Regions from separate parts of the Homo sapiens genome. Here region 2 is linked to region 1. The links come from fine-mapping of genetic effects on gene expression. A gene starts in region 1. The other region holds a variant in brackets. All regions are shown on one strand. Distances are between the middles of the regions.

Region 1 (2,920 bases):
TTCATTCTGTGGTCAGTGGAAGCAGTGTCAGATGGGTGAGATGGCCTGAGGCGGCCTCACGGGGCTGAGGGCGTTGAACAGGTCCAGGCAGTCCTCCAACCCTGAGCTGGACCAAAGGGACTGGCTGCACAGGCTGAATAAGAGGCACTGCCCACAAATCAATTAAAATATTTCATAATTAAGAAAAAAGCATTTCTAAAGCACAGTGCCCCAGGAAAGGAATTTGGAATAAGCCCAATAATAAAACAAACTGGACCTCTATTTGAGCTACTATCCTATGTGGAAGTGCTGGCTGTGTCATGAGCTCCTTCCTCAAGAGAAAACCTAAGACCTATGCAGGGCTCTTCCTAGACTGCCAGTAGGATGACACATTCAGGTGACATGAATCACAGAGGAGGGAGGTACTACCAACCCCCCTCCCAACATGACACATTTACATATTCAAAAGATGACAAAAAATCAAGCTCCGAGTGCTTGCAATTCATTTGGAAGAGATAAGGCTAGGACATAGCCGAACAATACTTCAAAATACTTATTAAGCAATAAATAACCAGCTGCAGTTGAACGCTCTCTAGATTCCACAGTCTAGTTTAATCCTATTTCAGCCATTTAGATTCCTGCATAAGAGCTCTGGCGCGTAAAATTCCAAGTGGGGTAAGACACAAAAATTTCCAAATATATGCCTTGATAATACTTTCCTGAAATGGAAATGTACTTACTACTCTTATTGATTAAAAGAGCAGATTGAGAGCAGTCTAAATATCCATTATTGGGTCTTCTCATATAAATATGATGTATTCCTGTTTTGTTTGTTTGTTTGTTTGGGTTTTTTTTTTTTTTTTTTTTTTTTTTTTGACTAGAGAATGAGGAAGCTCACTATGGACTGATATGGAAGGAACTATGTATCATTCAGTGCTCAAACACAAAAGTAGAAACCTCTCTATATATCTCAAGCAGAGTAGGATGGAACACAGGAAATTGGTTAAAAACTACTGGAAGGACTGAGGAGCAAAAAAAGAAGGGGCTCTTACCCAAAGAGGCTGGGAAGCTGCCACTGGCCCTTGGCTGAATCCTGTCAGGGATACTCAGTGTTGATCTTGCTGAAACTATCCCCGGATTGCTGGAGCCCAGAGCACAGGCAGTCCAGGCCAGCTGGGGAAAATGGCTAATCTCCTCCTCCCACACTGGAACCTAGCACCAGCGCCTCCCATGAAACCAGCTGGATGAGTGAGTCTGGGAAAGAGGATGGAGGATTATCCAGAAGGGTGGACTTGGACTTAAGAGTCAAGAGACACAATCCAGCACATCCACCCTTTTGCTACTCAGCATCCACACATTCCATTGTACGCACCCTACAGCAACATCACACTTCTTCCTCACAGAATGCAATTTTATTCCTCACACAGATGAACACAAGTTCACTCTCTCCCTAAAACAGATAATTCAGAGTAAAACCCTGTAAGATAGTGGCCTCAGCCACTGTATTCATCCCAGGGTGATGTTAAATTTTTTCCTTTCAGACACCATTGCACCTTTTATAATGGATGTTCTACAACCTAAAGGCTAAGTTGTAAAATTAACCACCAACACTCAGTGTTATGCAGAGTAAACAAAGAAGAAAATGTGCATAGCTGCTACGGGTTTTGTTTTGGTGACTGGTAACAAAACTAGTTGACTGATGATGATAATAGTTAAATAATAATTGAGAATGAACTTCTTCCAACGTCCATTCCATCTTCCTTTTACCTTCAGCCAGCAACTGAAGTTAGTTGTCTGGGGTTCTTTTCTTGGCAAGATTATTGAAACCTTCATTTTTGAAGGGTCTAAGTCTTTAGCTGTCCTGCAGGTTGCAATATTATTCCAGAAACTTTTACTCTTGGACATGGAAGTGCTAAGAGGCACCCAGGAGAATTTCCAGGGCTTCAGACATAGTCCTCTCTGCCACCATTGTGTGTCACGGCAACCCAATTACTCCCTGGTAATAATTCTGTTCAGTCACCCCAGCCAGAAAAGTAACCCTCTTCTTTGCCTGTCCATTTAGTGGCAGAAGAAACTTGAAATGGGCAGACAGAAGTATCGAATTCCAGTTCAGTGGAACGTTATTGTTTCCCCTAGAGGAAGCGTTCTCTCCTAGGAATCAAGACCTTTAAACCAGCTGATCTATGTTTTGTAGAAGGAGGGCAAATATTCTGTGAGTGATATTCAGGATGTGATAGTGAGAGTAGCCACTCTCATTTTTACCCCTTGACTCCCAGGTCTGTGTATCCTGACTATGAGAGACATAGCATCACTCATTTGCTGATTCAAAGCATAATCTACGTGCAGTAAGAAAGCCACCTAGACTGCAGGCAGTTATCTTCCAGATGGTACCATTTTTGAAACTTCAGTTATCTATTTCTAAATTTTGTAATGATAACTACCTTTGGGTGCTGGAGTACATGGTAATCCAATAAGTCCCATGGGCATGATACCAATGCTGTACTACTTTTGCTGTAAAATTAGTTCTTTGGTCACAAGCAAAGAACTTCTTTGGTCATAATCATCATGCTATTAAATAAGGCTCTGTGTTAAGTTCACAGATGGTGGTACTGATAAACCCACTGCAGGCAGTGAATGCACAGCATATTTAGAAATAGTGTCCCAGCCTGGGCAACATAGCGAGACCCTGTCTGAACAAAAAAATTTTTTTTAAAAAAGAGCTGGGCATGGTGGTGAGTGCCTGTAGTCCTAGCTACTTGGGAGGCTGTGGCAGGAGGATCACTTGAGCCCAGGAGTTCAAGGTTATAGTGAGCTATGATTGCACCACTGCACTCCAGCCTGGGTGACAGAGTGAGACCCTGTCTCTATTTAAAAAGAAAGAAAGAAAAAATAAATAGTGTCTATTCTAGAGGACAAAATCATGTCCTTCATAATAGAAGTT
Region 2 (2,920 bases), 3.6 kb after region 1:
AAACCGAACCTGGTATATACTATTTTACTACTTACACCTGATGATGGATTTCTGCCATGCATGCCTAACCTTATGGCTCAGAGGACTGGTGTATTAGTTGTCTGAGTTTCCTGAGTAATAAATTACCCCAAAACTTCACAACATGCATTTATCATCTTACATTGTTTCTGAGGGTCAGGAATCTGGGAACAGCACAGTTGGGAGAATCTGGCTGAGGGTCTCTCACGAGGCTGCAGTCCAGTTGTCAGCCAGTACTGTAGTCACCTTAAAGCTTAACTAGACCTGCTGTAGCCCAATGATTCTCACCTTAAAGCTTAACTAGACATGCTGTAGCCCAATGGTTCTCAAATGGGGGTGATTTTGCACCCCAGAAAATATTTGGCAATGTCTGCAGACATTTTCAGTTCTCAAAACTATGGGGAGTGATGCTACTAACATCTGGTAGGTGGAGGCCAGGCATGCTATTAAACATCCTGCAATGCACAGGCCCGCCCCACAGCAAAGAATTGCCTGTCCCGTAAATGTCAATAGTGCCAAGACTGAGAAACCCTGCTCTCTCTTGAGCCCTTTTTTGCACTGGTCCCTAGACAAAACTTGCAGCGTAGTAGGTAACTCACAACATTGCTCTGAACAATAGACTCTAAAAGTGTTTATGTTACCTCAAAAATAAAAAGACCCACAGAATATTATAGCTCTTCTTCGTGATAGGTGGTACAAAGTACAGTAATTTGTCTTTCACTTTGGAGAGGAAATGCCAATATTCTCCAGACCACACTGGACCCCTAGAATCTTCACCAAAGCAATAGGCGTTTGATTTTTCTTGGGGATCATCTCCCACCCCCTGGCATACATTTGTCTTATTAAGGCATGTACGATATTTGCTCCTTGCTGCTCATCATGTCAATTACACATCAGCAGGATGTTCTGCAGGATACCAAGATGGTCCAGGCTCCTGCAGACTAGTTCTCGTCAGAGAGCAGGAGAGGTAACGCAGGCCTGAGGTAAGATAGGGAGGTGTTTTGCCATTCCTCCAGCTGCTTGAGAGCAAGCTTCTTCTGGTGATATTTGCTAATTTGGTATCGGGGGGAAAAAGCATCCACCAGATTCGTAGCTGCATACCAAGTGCCAAGAGCTCTGCTGTGTTATCCAATAAAAGAGACTACATCTGGTCTAGTAACTTGTTAATGTTGTAAGAATTCACAGTCATTCTCCAATAACCATCTTCCTTCTGTACATGCCAGACAGAGGAGCTAAATGAGGACACAGTAGAACAACTCTTGTACTGTTCAAATGTTAGATAGAAGTACTAATCGCTGTC[A/C]TTTCCCCAGGGATAAGGTATTGCTTTCAGTTTACTCTTACATAGGAAGGGGAAATCCCAAGAAGCTTTCACTTGGCCCTGCCTACCATACTAATACTCACCACACAAGACAGAAAATCCATATGGAGATGGGCTCTTTTTGTTTCTGAGATGACAGCTCCATTCAGGAATGGGAAGATAACCACATCGCAGGTGAAGAGACCCACTGGAATCCAATGAAGCAGCCACAGGTCCAAATTTCATTTACTACCTGATTACCAATAAGTGATACCCCCCTCCAATGGGTCAGAGGCATTTTGGGTCTCTAGAGATTAGCATAGACTCAGAACCAATGTCCAGAAATCTACCAAAAGCCTGGATATGCCCCCTTCCTCAGTACACAGTTACCCTAGTGAATGGCTGCATGTCTTTTGGGGAAGACTGAAAGGAAGATTTATGCTAGATACTTATAGCAATGTTATAGGGGCCTTCCTCAAACTTCCCAATCCTCTCCTTCATCTAAACTTTAGAGTTCTCAAGCCTTAGCATGCATCAGAATCAGCTGAAGTGAAGATTGCTAGGACCCACCTCCTGAGTTCTTGTGTCAGTGGGTTTGGGGCAGGGTCTGATAATGTGCATTTCTAACAAAGTCCCAGGTGATGCTGTTGCTGCAACTTCTTGGCCACGGTTTGAAAATCGGCAATCTAAGGATTTCTGTGTTTTAGAACTGACTCAGGTCTGGAATGTAGATGAGAGGCAATGACTCTCCATTGAACAGCTCAGGTTTCTATTCACTAGACCTAGAGATTTTCTGATTATATAAATCAGATAATTCTTAGTAGACTGCCCGTCTAGTTTGTCCTAGGGCCACTATGAATAGTGAGCCAATAGCAAAGGTCTCTGTATGCTACGACGTTCCGCTTGCTGCTCCATTATGACCATTACGGCAACTGTGCCCACCTTGCTCCTGGATAAGAGCTGCCACCTGGTTCTGCCCCTCCAGGAACCCATCATCCATTAAAATCAAGAAGTCTTTTAATGAAGAGGTCTTCTCTCAGTGGGGTCTCTTAAGAAGCCCCAACAAGACAGTTGGCTTGAAACATGTGCCAACTCTGGAGAAACCTGACCACATTAATGCCAATCAAGAAAGAGCTTTTCTGCTCTTACCACTCTATCTCCCTACATTCCCTACATCCTGGAAGGGCCAGAAACTGTGGCGTGCCTGAGTTTCATCCAGGCAATGAAAAAGAAATATCTCAAGGATTGGATTTTAAAAGATATTGGGGGCCAGGTGCGGTGGCTCACGCCTGTAATCCCAGCACTTTGGGAGGCCGAGGTGGGACGATCACATGAGTTCAGGAGTTCGAGACCAGCCTGGCCAACATGGCAAAACCCTATCTTTACTAAAATACAAAAATTAGCCAGGCATGGTGGCATGTGCCTGTAGTCCCAGCTACTCGGGAGGCTGAGGCAGGAGAATCACTTGAACCCAGGAGGCGGAGGCTGCAGTGAGCCAAGATGGTGCCACTGCACTCCAGCCTGGGTGACAGAGTGAGACTCTGTCTCAAAAAAAAAAAAAAAAAAGATATTGGGAAGCACAAATAAGGTTGCTTTATAATTGAA

What was found. PIP is the estimated chance that this variant, and not a neighbour inherited with it, causes the effect.
Region 2: its variant is the best candidate, but not a certain one, in a credible set for the expression of CPVL-AS2 in hippocampus (GTEx, PIP 0.75).

Annotation. Positions count from the first base shown.
Region 1 is chr7:28,978,210-28,981,129 of GRCh38, reverse strand. It overlaps CPVL-AS2 (CPVL antisense RNA 2), which reads right to left and starts at 1,163. Exons shown (of 5, transcript NR_038965.1): 1 at 1,032-1,163.
Region 2 is chr7:28,974,567-28,977,486 of GRCh38, reverse strand. No RefSeq gene overlaps it. Among named protein-coding and RNA genes, the nearest start is that of CPVL-AS2, 3.9 kb to the left of the region's middle. The variant A/C (reference allele first, on the strand shown) is at 1,319.